2 linked regions of the Homo sapiens genome follow. Each later gene encodes a partner of the first gene's protein in a complex. Each region holds a gene or a part of one and is shown on either strand. Other genes may lie near its edges. A codon is read from its position in the direction of its gene.

The links. Proteins that work in one complex are often made in the same cells at the same time.
Region 2: the proteins of IREB2 (region 1) and FBXL5 are in contact, whole or in part, in a cryo-EM structure (PDB 6VCD), measured with the Homo sapiens proteins. Residues at the interface, in NP_004127.2 of Homo sapiens: Asp89, Phe90, Ser129, Asn217, Val220, Glu221, Arg224, Arg228, Ala758, Gly759, Ser760, Arg763, Asn764, Thr777, Pro778, Arg779, Asn782, Ser783, Tyr784, Gly785, Ala786, Arg788; in NP_036293.1 of Homo sapiens: Asp656, Glu657, Tyr661, Cys662, Asp663, Asn664, Ile665, His669 (codon at 4,576), Ala670 (codon at 4,579), Asp671 (codon at 4,582), Thr672 (codon at 4,585), Ala673 (codon at 4,588), Ser674 (codon at 4,591), Gly675 (codon at 4,594), Cys676 (codon at 4,597), Gln677 (codon at 4,600), Asn678 (codon at 4,603), Leu679 (codon at 4,606), Gln680 (codon at 4,609), Cys687 (codon at 4,630), Arg688 (codon at 4,633), Ser689 (codon at 4,636), Gly690 (codon at 4,639), Glu691 (codon at 4,642).

Annotation. Positions count from the first base shown.
Region 1 is NC_000015.10:78,433,771-78,441,217, reverse strand, and holds the start of IREB2 (iron-responsive element-binding protein 2), read right to left. Parts: upstream 3,003-7,447; 5' UTR 2,881-3,002; coding exon 2,862-2,880; intron 2,798-2,861; exon of another isoform or gene 2,362-2,797; intron 1,424-2,361; coding exon 1,337-1,423; intron 1-1,336. UniProt on the Homo sapiens protein: RNA-binding protein that binds to iron-responsive elements (IRES), which are stem-loop structures found in the 5'-UTR of ferritin, and delta aminolevulinic acid synthase mRNAs, and in the 3'-UTR of transferrin receptor mRNA.
Region 2 is NC_000004.12:15,603,866-15,610,369, reverse strand, and holds the end of FBXL5 (F-box/LRR-repeat protein 5), read left to right. Parts: intron 1-4,570; coding exon 4,571-4,647; 3' UTR 4,648-5,989; downstream 5,990-6,504.

The DNA.
Region 1 (7,447 bases):
TTCTAAAATGGGGATTCTTTAAGATACTCCAAAATAGCTGTATTTCACAATACACAAAAAATATTGCACATAGCAGTCAAGAATATTTAAATTCCTCAAAATCTACAGAAAAATCACAAGAACAATCGTCTTAATTAAATAATGCAAGAAAAAACAAGATTAAAGCTCCTTCCAAAACTGACTGCAACAGATGTGGCATTCAATTTATCTTTTCATGTCATTGTCATGGAAAAGTTCACAAAGAATAATGAGTCTTCTAAAGAGGTCTCTCTATTGGCCCAATTGAGAAAGTTACTCAACTGTTAGTAAAGTCAAAACTTCCATTCAATGCCCTATAGGTCGCCCACATTCACTCTTCTGAGACCACAGAGAAAGGTTTGACCCTGATAAGGTCAATGAGAATGTCTGCCAAAACTGCAGGTGTGTAGGTTGGGGCAAACCATGCCCAATACTTCAGAAAAATTCAAATCAATGGGTCCTGTTGGTGATTCCTATTCAACAGATGGCAAAAAGAATAGATGTGGGCACTGTTCATTTGACAAAGTAAAACAGGCCAGGCATAGTGGCTCAGGCCTGCAATCCCAATACTTTGTGAGGCTGAGGCAGATGCATCACTTAAGGTCAGGAGTCTGAGACTAGTCTGGGCAACACAGCAAGACCCCAACTCTACAAAAAATATAAAAATATGTTTTTATATAAATGTGTTGGCATACACCTGTAGGCCTTGTTACTTGGGAGGCAGAGGCAGGACTGCTTTAGCCCAGGAGTTCAAGGCTGTATGAGCTATGATCACAACACTGTGCTCTAGCCTGGGCAACAGAGCAAGACTCTGTCTCAAAAAAAAAAAGAAAAGAAAAGAGAAAATAAAATATACATTTAATTGGTGTAGAATTATCATCAGTCAGTCAGGTTCTTCTAAAAATCACATTAGGCCAGGCGCAGTAGCTTACATGTGTAATCCCAAAACTTGGGGAGGCAGAGGTGGGAGGATTATTTGGGCCCAGGGGTTCAAAACTAGCCTGGGTAACATAGCAAGACCCCTGTCTTCACAAAAACAAGAAAAAAAAAAGTTTGAAAACTGCATTATTGGTTTCTTTGAGGGGAAAAACTAGTGCTTAATTAACTTAGATTTTTAAATGAGAAGTTAAGGTGTGGGCCTACATCTTCCCTGAACAGAAGTTGTCCCAGGAGGAGTTTTTAAAATGGTATAGGTATGTGTAGGTGTACCTGTTACAATACGGTGGAAATACATTTAAAATTTCTTCAGCTCAGCTTGACAAATGCATTTTCATTATTAGAGACTAAACAAACCCAAGAAAATGTAAAGCAACATTACCATACTTGGTGCCAAGTTTAGATACATCGAAGAACTTCTTATGTGAACTGTCATTTAATGTTTCAATAAGGTACTCAAAGGCGTATCCTGAAAAAAAAATTGTATTTTCATTAAATGCAGCAACAAAATATTTTATTCAGCTGAAAATACCTGGAAACTAGCTTTATCCAATAGAATTTTCTGCAATGGTAAAAATATTCTATGTTTGAGCTGTCCAGTAAAGTAGCCATTAGCAACGTGTGGCTATTGAGCACCTGAAATGTGGCTATCGTGCCTGAGGAACTGAATTTTTAATTTATTTAATTTTGATTAATTTAAAGTCACACAGGGCTAGTATCCACCACACTGGAAAGCATAGTTCTAAACCATAATTTGTCAAGTAAAAACTAGTAAGATAATTCACTCCTGAAATGTGATAAGAATACCTGGAAAGGGACAATAAGAATGATTTAAATAATCCACGGGGACGTTTTGGAAAGACATGTCTTGAAAACTGCAGAGACAGGAATTTGTGAATTCCACAATTAACATTAGAGGGACTGATTAAAAAAAAAAACTAAAAGACGGATTTTTACAGAGCATTCAATAAACCAAAACAAAAAAACTTCTCAGTTAAGTCCTTACCAGGGCTTAGTACTGAAAATAAAAGTAACAGAATCTCTAGGAAATTAGCATATTCTACCCGAAAGAGACAAGTCTTCTGGTTTTGCACGAACTGAAGCTGAACTACTAAGTCAAAGATCCAGAGGTCTCATTTAAACGTGCCTCAGCTCCCAACATTCTAGGGGGCAGTGGCGGGGAGGCAGCCCTGAGGTTGAAAAGAACCTTCAGATCTTTTGTGCAGACTCATAGCGGTGGGTGGCCAGGACCCTCAACATTGTTAAGGCTTTCATCCAAAAGGAGAAAACATAAGCACAGCCCATTTTCAGAATGAATAGTATTTTTTTCTCTTTTTTTTTTTTTGTAGAGGGAGGTGGACGGGGGAGGAGACAGCGGTGCAATAAATGGTCGGAGAACTGACTGACCAATGTTCAACCTTGACTGCCCCTCATTCGGCTTCCAGAGGCACAGAGAGACTGAGGGGCCTTAGGCTGGACCGTGGAATCAACATCTAGCTGCGTGAGACCCGAACACGGAGACGCAGGCCCCCGCCTTCATCGCTCGCCAATGGGGGGCGGGCAGGAGAAGACGGTGGGCCTCTCCCTGCCCCTGGTGTTGCTGACGGGGGCCAGGAAGCCGCTGGCAGCAGGCAGCGGCCACCGGAGAGAGAGGGGTGCGGGTCAAGGCCAGCGGTGGGGTGGCCCGCCCTGCGGGTGTCGCGCAGGAGGGTGGGGATCGGGAGCCCCAGCTTCCGCGGCCTAGGCTCAAAGGGCGGCCCAGCAGGCAGGCCCCGAGGGGAGCACAACCCGAGCCCCGAGGGCCTGGGCGCCTGCCGAGCGACTCCAGGCGAGAAAAGCAAGGAATTCGGCGCCTAGGCAGCGCGCGTTTCCAACTGCCAGACCCAGCTCGGAGGCCCGAAACTGACCTGCTTTTGGGGCGTCCATCGCCGGAGACCATATTATCCCTCCGGGGAGGGGGCCAGCGGGGGAAGAAGGGGGAGGCCGGGCAGGGAAGACGGGGAGGAAGACAGGCGGACTGGCAAGGGAGGAAAGAAGGAAGCAGGCTCGCGCAAATATCGCGAGAGCAGCAGAGCCAGCCCCGGGTCTGCGCTCGCGGGATTTGTCGCCTAACTCCCGCGAGATCGTCGGACAGGAAAACAAAGAAAGGGAAGGGGCGGAGCTAACCAGAAAGCGATTTCTCGCGCCGTCGCCGCTGTTCTCGCGAGCGGGGGCGGAGCGCTGGGGAGGCTCCAGTGGGGGCGTTGGCGTGGCTAGTTTGGCCTTCGCAGCGATCCGTTACTTAGTTGCGGCCTTAAGTTTTCTATTGGGGTCATGAATTCGAGCGGTGTTTGCGTTCCCGCAAGGTGTCTGTTGGAGTCAGGGTCGGAATCGGAACTGCTAGGAGAAAGAGCTCAAGGAGAACCGCTTTCCCCTAACTATAAAGCCTTGCATTAACTTGTCAGACGTGGGCGGCCCACACGCGTGTTTTCAAGTGGGGGCGGCCATACTGATCGGGCGCGTGGGAGGCGCTCAACTGTTGAATGAATGAATTTTTTCTTACCCTCCGGTAGCTTCCGTGATTGCCGACTTCTTCCCAGTGGCAGTTAACACATGCTTAAGCCTCTCCATCCTTCCGCCTCAGCTCCTCCGGTCCCTGTGTTCTCCACCTACCCAGCATTATCTCCTGTCGCAGCAACTTACCAGAAAGAGTCGCTCATACTCGGCTCTCCCCCACCCACTTCTTATCCTCTTCCAGTCTGGCTTCCACTCCCAGAAATGCCTTTAGCCAAGGCCAGCTATAACTCCACTTTCTAATCTCACATATCTCAATCTTGACTGGTTCTCTCCCATTGTTGAAAAATACTCTTCCATCAGCTTCTGTGACTTCAGACTCTACTTTTGTTTCTTCTCCTAAGGGTGCTTGATCTCAGGCTCCTCTGCAGACCTCTTCCTCCGCCCAGCTTTTAAATGTACTGGGCACTTGATGGGCACAGTAGCTCATGCCTGTAATTCCAGCACTTTAGGAGGCCAAAGTGGGAGGATGGCTTGAGCTGAAAAGTTCAAGACCAAACACAGCAACGTAGTGAGACCCTATCTCTACAAAAAAAATTTAAAAATTAGCTGAGTGTGGTGGCATGCACCTGTAGTCTCAGCTACTCAGGAGGCTGAGGTGGGAGGATCACTTGGGCCCAGGAGATTGAGGCTGTGGTGAGCCATGATTGCACCACTGCACTCCAGCCTGAGCAACACAGCAAGACCCTGTCTCAAAAAAAAATATATTGGACATTAAATGTGTCCCAGGGCTCTGGCCTTGTACCTCCTCCCTCTGTCCATTTTCCCTGGCCCATCTCACACTTCCTTTGACTTCAGTTATTAGTTAATATGTTGATGCTTCCCAGTCTGCCTGTGACCTGAGCCTATCTCCTAAACCCGGAGGTGTATATCCTAGTACCCATGGGATGCCTCCACATCCCAAGGCACCTCAAACTAAAAATCTCCAAAACTGAACTCGTCATTTCCCTCCTTAAACCTACTATTCCTTTTGTATTGCCTGTATTAGCGAATGGCGCCACCATCCACCTGGTTGCCCAAGCCAGAAATCAACACATTATACCTGACTCCTTCATCCACTCCCTTTAATCATTGATCCAAGCCCTGTCAACCCAAACTCCAATATATTTCCTTTATTCACCTTGCTATATTTTGTAACATCTCCTTTACAATCCCAGCATGAAATTCATAGGTAATATAATCTACATACACGATAAATAATCTACTTAATGACCTAACTGTAATATAAAGGAGAAAAATAGGAAAGTAATTTATTAGAAAATAATATGTATTATAATACGTAGCTGCACAGGCATGTCTATATTAGATGACAAAATTGAGTAGTCAGATGCTTGTATCTATTTATAACGAATGAGTTTGGTTTTACAGGACATATAATATTCGACTGGGCCAGGCACAGTTGGTAGCTCAAGCTTGTAATCCCAGCACTTTGGGAAGCCAAAGCTGCAGGATCGCTTGATGCTAGGAGTTTGAGACTAGCCTGGGCAACATGGTGAGACCCTGTCTCTACAAAAACTTAAAGAGTTAGCCAGACATAGTGGTGCATGCCTGTAGTACCAGCTACCGTGAGACAGAGGCAGGAGGATCACTTGAGCCCAGAAATTCAAGATTACAGTGAGCTATGATTGTGCCACTGCACTCCAACCTGGGAGACAGAATGAAACCCTGTCTCAAAAAAAGATAAGGCCGGGGCGGTGGCTCACGCCTGTAATCCCAGCACTTCGGGAGGCTGAGGCGGGCGGATCACGAGGTCAGGAGATGGGAGATCATCCTGGCTAACACGGTGAAACCCCGTCTCTACTAAAAGTACAAAAAATTACCCGGGCGTGGTGGCAGGCGCCTGTAGCCCCAGCTACTCGGGAGGCTGAGGCAGGAGAATGGCGTGAACCCAGGAGGCGGAGCTTGCAGTGAGCCGAGATTTCACCACTGAACTCCAGCCTGGGCAACAATGCAAGACTTCGTCTCAAAAAAAAAAAGATAATATTCAGCTGAATATGGTCAACACTTTTTATGTCTGACATTGCAAAATAAGGATTCAATATATACATACATATCATGCATAAATATATATTATGAATGCATATATGGTAAATGCACATATGTATAAAATGTACATATATATCATGAATGGCCTCTAAAGACTAATGAAAATATGTTAGTGACTTAAATATTGGAAGTGTTGTCACTATTGTGATTTTCTGAAATGGTGAATAACTCTTGATAAAGTTCAAAACAAAAAAAAAAAACCTTTGCTTTTTTTATGCAATAGTTGTATTCCTAGAAAATTCCGTATATATTAAAACCATACACAAATTACTTTTGTTTTTACTTGTATATGGGGTTAAACTCTAGGCTCAGATAATTATAAACAAATTTGTTGTTACTGTTTTTATGTTTGTGTGTATGTTTAATGTACTTGAATATCTGACAGTATGGGTCTTGTTTGATTCTTTTTTTTTTTGAGACGGAGTCTTGCTCTGTAGCCCAGGCTGGAGTGCAGTGACATGATCTTGGCTCACTGCAACCTCCGCCCCTCGGGTCCCGGTTCAAGCAATTCTCCTGCCTCAGCCTCCTGAGTAGCTGGGAATACAGGCACGTGCCATCATGCCCAGCTAAGTTTTATATTTTTAGTAGAGACAGGGTTTTACCATGTTGGCCAGGCTGGTCTTGAACTCCTGACCTCGTGATCCGCCCATCTCAGCTTCCCAAAGTGCTGGGATTACAGGCGTGAGCCACCGGGCCTGGCCCTTGTTTGATTCTTTGTTGTGTAATTCTATAGTGTGGAATGCAGGCAATCTAACATTCATTGAATCCCAAAAGTGCCCCATGATGGTGACAAACAAAAACACCCATTTTCTCAGTGTCCCGCTTCCACTGAGAAGCACTAACTTAGAACAATCATGATATGCTCCCGTGTGGCTGGACTCATTACTTTTTTTTTTTTTTTAACAGTTTTATTTACTTTTTGAAAATTTTATTTATTTTAAGACAGAGGTCTGTTTATTTGGCCTGGACCGATCTCAAACTCCTGAGTTCAAGGGATTCTCCCACCTCAGCCTCCCAAGTAGCTGGGACTACAGGCATATGCCATCTCAGTCAGCTTTAACAGTTTTATTGAGATTTAGTTTAAATATCATAAAATTTACCTATTGTTAAACATTCTTATTTTGTGACAATTGTAGATTTACATGTAGTTGTACTAAGTAATAAAGATCCCGTATACTCTTCACCTAGTCTTTCTCCATGTAGCATAGTACAATATAAAAACGAGCAAATTGACATTCATACAATCATTCCACCTTACTCAGATTTAGGCAGTTCTACATGTACTCCTTTGTAGGGTGTGTGTGTGTGTGTGTGTGTGTGCGCGCACATGCACGTGTGTATTTAGTTCACGTGTGTGGCTTTGTGTGGCCATCACTACAGTCAAGATATGGAACATTTCCAAGGATCCTTCCTGTTGCCGTTTTATAACCGCAGCTGTTTTCCTCCTAGGCTGCCATTTCCTCATCCCCTACACCCTATTTTGAATGCTATGCAAATGGAAGCTTATGGTATGTTTTCACTATACATTTTTTTTCAAGTTACATTTCCAGTGAGATTTTAGCACCCTTTTAGATCAGTGTCTCGGGCAATGTCCAGGCTGGTTCACCTCTCCTTTTTTTTTTTTGAGAGAGAGTCTCACTGTGTTGCCCAGGTTGGAGTGCAGTGGGGTGATCTCGACTCACTGCAACCTCCATCTCCTGGGCTCAAGTAATTCTCCCACCTCAGCCCCTGAGTTCCTGGGACCACAGGCGCACGCCACCATGCCCAGCTAATTTTGGTATTTTTTGTAGAGACAGGGTTTTCCTATGTTCCTTAGGCTGGTCTCGACTTCTGTACTCAAGCTGTCTGCCCACCTTGGCCTCCCAAAGTGCTGGGATTACAGGTATGAGCCACT
Region 2 (6,504 bases), on another chromosome or scaffold:
GGGGGAATGGAAAGCCTTTAAAATTTACAGGGTGACTTGTTAAATAACTTGTGTCTGAGTTCCACATAGGTTGTTCTTAAAGCAATGCTCTCTCATAGTCTTTTCCTTAAAAGGATATGTGGACAACCTAGAAAGTGTTAGAAAGAAGTTGTGTTGTATCCAGTTTTGCAAGATGACACTTGTTCCAGTATCTTTCAAAACAGCTCAGCTTGTACAGTAGATATCTAGTGAATGCTCAGGGGCATCCTTGTTACTATTTTTATTATTTCTGAAAGTAGTGTGTTTTAATACGTGGTATTAGAGCAATGGAGAAGTGTATTTAGGTGACAAATTATATTTCAAATATTTGAAAGTGACGTTTAGCTAAAAATATATTTTTTAAAAGAAAACATATATAGTTAACTATCAGGTTACTAAATGTAAAAGAAGTTAATACTGATAAACATTAGTCATTAAGTAATACATGATAAGTAAAGCAGAATGATCTATTTTCCAAGCATTAGCAGAGATTTTGGAGATAATAAGTTAGTTATCATATATTCAAACAGTGCCCAGTACAGTGCAAGACACTGTACATAAAGTGTCTTGATATAAAATGCAAGTCTAGATTCTTCTGAATGATTCTTTATGACTTTTAAATTTATTTGATAAGATTTGAAAAGTCTTCTTAGCCATAACATTAAAAAATTTCTTTAACATTTAAGAAGTGTTAAATGGAATAGCATAGTTGTAGAGCTGTGAAGAACATTTGAGCAATGATAGCAAATAAACTTTTTTACTGATTTGCATTTCAATGTATGTATAATTTATAAATTAAGATAGATTAGCTCATAGTTTTGGAGGTGACACAGTCTCAGATGATGTGCTCTTTTATGTTTCTAATTTAAGTTAAAGAGGAATTAAAGGTAAGTGAAGGTAAGTGCAGATATACAGCATAAGTAATATACTTAGAACTCAGTAAAAACAAGTTATTCAATAATAAAAGTCTGGAGAAATAATAGCTAACCTTATACTTCCTATCATCTGATACTTAAAAATGCTTTCTTATAAGATTATTCTTTACCACGCATTTAAATATTTTAATGATTATTCAATTATATTTTTCTATTTTCTTTATTATTCCTTAATGTAATTTAGGCTTTATATATCTTAACCATTTGGGTTCTGTGTCCTACATCGAGATGGAAGTTTGCTGGTGATAAGTCAAATATTTAAAGGGAACTACCTTGTGAATTATCTTCGTCTGTTAAAGCATAGCTGTCTACCTGGCAATCCATCATATCTTAGTCATATTTCTTTCTAGTTTTCCCTCACCTTTTCTGTTGTCCATTTATTCTGTTGTCCATTTATTCACTTCTCTGAACAGTCCTTCTGTGTTACTTAAGGATTTTATTGTTAATGTTGCTTATACTTTCCATGCTTTGGAAGGTGTTAGTCTCCTGTTTTCTACAATGTGATACTGAGTTTAAAACAGTGCTTGTCTTCATTTTTGTTTTGGCTCAGGCCTTCAGCAGATCCTTTAATGGGTGCTGTCACTTTCATGATTATTGGGATCAAATACCAGTAACTACTCTTATTATTTACCTTATCATAGGATTGTAGTTTTGAGTCATTTAATACTATAGTTACTGATTAAGTTCATATAGCCTTCTTTAAACAGATTCTGCTTTCAAATTTGAAAACAATATATTCTCTCTCTTCACTCTGTATACTTAGAATCTCACTGAAACTCAATTCTGGTGAACTTAAAATGTATTCAGAGTTCTTGCCTATATTCATATAAAATGTGTCTACTCACTGAGTAGACACATTTTATATGAATATAGGCAGGAACTTTGTTTTGTGATAAATAAGGAGATGCTGACAGTAGGTTTGTGCTTTTTACCTAATACAGGGTAAAAACTTTTATTTCTACATTTTTCTTCCCCCATTATCTCTGCCACCATCCCTTAGACTTCAGGAGCATAATGACCCAGGTAGCTAGGGTGGAAACTGAGCATGTGGACCCTACATCTTTTGGGGAGGGTGGTGAAAAACTGTGTCATGTCAGGTTAGATCTGAATCTCTAGGAGAATAGCTTTTTTGATCTGTTTGCTCCTTTGAGTCTCCCTTTTACTTTATCCTTTGAAAACCAATTGCATACTTCACTTCCATTGCTTCCAGATATGGCATATTTTTCTTAGGCTACTGTTGAAATTTAGCATAATATTTCTCCCTTACCTTTCTGTCCTTTTAAAAAAATAGGACTATAGTAAGTCCTCCGTGTCGGTGGTATGTTTTTGGAAACTGACTTTAAAGAAAACATACAGGAAGTCCTCAAATAGTGTCATTTCATTATAATGATGCAAACAAAACAACTACCTTTGTTATACGTTATTTTGCTTAGAGTCGCAGTTTCTAAGAACCTATCGATGTTAAGTGAGGACTTAATGGTATAGACATTTTGAAATATTTGAGGGAGTTGCAGTTTGGAAAAATTGTATAGAGTCTTCATGTCTCTTCTTATTTCTTTAAAAAAATTTAGAATGGAATTTTAATCTGATAAAATGATAATCAGATCCATTTTGGCAAAACCCAGTGAATCTGGCATTTCATGATGGACCTAAGGGTCAGAGCAGGAGAATGGCAGTGAGGCAGGGCTTGTGTCTTGAGGAGAGGCACTAGGTGATTGGTAGACAAAACAGTGGGCAGTGTAAGGGGTGAGGAAAGACAAGCTAAGAAGGGGAATAATGGGGATTGGGTGGTGCACAGTGGGTAAAGCTGGCATTATATTCAAAGGAAAAACTTGGTTAAAGATTGGCAGTGGGAGAAGAATTTCAGATCATAGGGTTGCTTCTCAGGGCATTTTTAATAAGTATTCAATATATACTAAAACATTTTATCTTGAGTTTGTGATTAAGATGATTAACATTGTTTCTTATTTTAAGGGAAAATAATTTTAACAAAATGCTGCTTTGTGAATTTTAAATATTTAACATATTTAACTTCTCATTTAAAGACCAGAAAAGATTGTTATTTTGATTAAATAAAAATTGGCTTTAGTAATTCAACTTTATATTTAAAATAATTTTAAACTTCCTGTTATGGAAAAATTTAACATCGAATAATACAACGAATCCTCATGTACCATCAGCTTCAGCAGTTATAAACCTGTGGGCAGTCTCCTTTCATCTATACCATTGCTCATTCCCATATCTACTCCGCCATTAAGCTAATCACAGGTGTCATATCAACTTAAAAATTAATATGACTGAAAGCATAAGCTGTTGTAGTTCCACATATTTGCGTAATGTTTATTAGTTTCTTTCCTAAGACTGTATGTCTTAAGAAATTTGCCCTTTGTATTTTGTATGTGCCATTTGGGGAATATAAGGAAAAGTTAAATTTCTGGAAATTAATGTGTTCTATGTGTTTAGTTGGAAGTAATTGTTATGGTAGTATTAGCTTACTTGCTTTTTTGTTGTTGTTGTTGCAGCCGAGTGCTGTTTTAGAAAATAAAAAGTAAATTTAAAATGTGTTTTTGAGTTAAGCTAGATATCACCCCAGAGTACTGTGATTTTTCAGTTACAATCCATTTGATATATTCTGCAGTAAAATTATATTTCATGTACAGTTTTCATTTTGTATTGTTCCTTATATCACAATTGCAAGTATTTTGGTTGTTCTTGTTGATATGTAAAGAACAAATTAACTACTCCTTATTTGTTCATGGTATAGACATAATGAAAGACTTCAATATAGTTGAAACAATCTTTTCCACATTTGCCTGCTTTTATGAAAATATCATTCATTCAGAGTACTTGACATTTGAATATGTGCTGTGAAACTTCTTCTTTGATATTTTCTAATTCTCAGCTATGTTCCCTAATGGGTCTTGTATCTAGTGCCTGGGTAGCATAGTGTGACTGGGATAAAATGTCAGTTATTCCACAGATTTTTTTTTATTCTTTGTAAGTGAATGATAATTTTTACTATGGCTACAGTTTAATTGATCACTCATTATATATTTAATTTTGGAAAATAATTTCATCTAACCCTACCATATATAGATATTTTTGGCTACAAATACTAAATAAAAATATGGCAAATATATTAAATCTTTGTCTATATAGTTTATTTTGCTTTAAAATTTGAAGATAATATTTATTGTAATTGCTCAATACTGACTTCTTTAGCTGATCGATTATAGTTAGGGCTGTTTTTTGCCTTTATTACATTTCTAGGGAGGATGTTCAGATTATAAGAATCTTTTTATAAGTTAGCTTGGCAATCTTGCTTCTGTGGATTGTCTCATTTCCATTTTGGATTTTTATATTGTAAGTTGTTGCTAAAAATTATTTTTTTCCCTTCTTCCACTTACCTTTTGGACCATGAAGGATATATTAATTAAAGTCAAGCTGCTATTGAGTTTTGTGTCTGAATAATTTCTTATACACTTATCATGAGATTTACTTCTATCATATAAGTACTGCTAGTAAAACCAATGAATGTTTAACTCCTTCATAAGCAAAATTATTTTTATGTGATCTCTAAGAAATTCCTCCTTTCACATTTTTCTGTTTTCATACAGGTCCTCATGCTGATACCGCCAGTGGATGCCAGAATTTGCAGTGTGGTTTTCGAGCCTGCTGCCGCTCTGGCGAATGACCCTTGACTTCTGATCTTTGTCTACTTCATTTAGCTGAGCAGGCTTTCTTTCATGCACTTTACTCATAGCACATTTCTTGTGTTAACCATCCCTTTTTGAGCGTGACTTGTTTTGGCCCCATTTCTTACAACTTCAGAAATCTTAATTTACCAGTGAATTGTAATGTTGTTTCTCTTGCAAATTATACTTTTGGTTTAGAAAGGGATTAGGTCTTTTCAAAAGGGTGAGAACAGTCTTACATTTTTCTTTTAAATGAAATGCTTTAAAGAATGTTGGTAATGCCATGTCATTTAAAGTATTTCATAGATAATTTTGAGTTTTAAAGTCCATGGAGGTGATTGGTTCTCTTTACACATTAACACTGTACCAAGCTTTGCAGATCTTTTCCGACACACATGTCTGAAGACTTATTTTCAAAGACAGCACATTTTTGGAAACTAATCTCTTTTCCGTAATATTTCCTTTATTTCAATGATTCTCAGAAGGCCAATTCAAACAAACCCACATTTAAGGTTCTTTAGGATTATAGAATAAATTGGCTTCTGAGTGTTAGCTCAGTGAGCTAGGAAAGCACCAATCGATATTTGTTTCCTTTAGGGATACTTTGTTCTCACCACTGTCCCTATGTCATCAAATTTGGGAGAGATTTTTTAAAATACCACAATCATTTGAAGAAATGTATAAATAAAATCTACTTTGAGGACTTTACCAAGTAATACTGTTGTGTTGTGATTTTTATTATAAATCTCAATCCAGGTTTACTTTAGTATAGAATAGGACTACATACTTTGTCTTTGGACCTCCCATGAACTTATTACCCTGACAAATAGTTTTAGACAGATACTGAATTTTATTGAGCTGAATTTTCTTTTTGAAATGAGTTATTCAGTAGTCAAAATTTGAATCCGTAAGTATATCTACTTTGCTTTGTTAAAACATCATGAGAGTGGAGGCCTGCCACCCAGAAAGGCACATACTAGTGCCTTTTAGTACAATTTTATGTCATGTAGAAGAAAATGGCAATGTTCCTCCTATTGATACAGATACAGGCATATGTCATCTTATTGCGTTTTGCTTTATTGCACTTTGCAAATAATGCATTTTTTACAAATGGAAGGTTTATGGCAACTCTGCGTTGAGCCAGTCTATTGGTGCCATGTTTCCAATAAAACTTCTCCTTTCATGTCTCGTATATTGTGATAATTCTTGGAGTATTTCATAGTTTTTCACTATTATTAAATCTGTTGTGGTGATCTGTGGCCAGTGATTGTTGTTACTATTGTAATTGCTTTGGAATGCCATGAACTGTGCCCTAATAAGACAGAGAACTTAATTGATAAATATTATGTATGTTCTGATTGCTCCACTGACCAGTGGTTCCTGTCTCTCTCCTCCTCAGACCTCCCTCTTCCTAGAGACACAACAATATTGAAATTAGGCCCCAGCTTATAACCTTGCAGTGGACTTTAAGTGTTGAAGTGAAAGGAAGAGTCATGTCTCTCACTTTAAGTGAAAAGCTAGAAATGATTAGGCTTAGTGAGCAAGGCATGTCGAAAACTTAGGCCCAAATCTACGCTTCTTGTGCCATACAGCAAAGTTGTGAATGCAACAGGAAAGTTCTTGAAGGAAATTAAAAGTGCTACTCCAGTGAACACCCAATGATAAGAAAGTGAAACAGCTTTATTACTGATATGGAGAAAGTTTTAGTGGTCTGGATAAATGAAACTAGCCATAAAATTCCCTTAAGCCAAAGCCTAATTCAGAGTAAGACCCTAACTCTCTTCAATTACATGAAGGCTGAGAGAAGTGAGGAAGCTTCAGAAAAGGTTGAAGCTAGCAGGGGTTGATTCATGAGG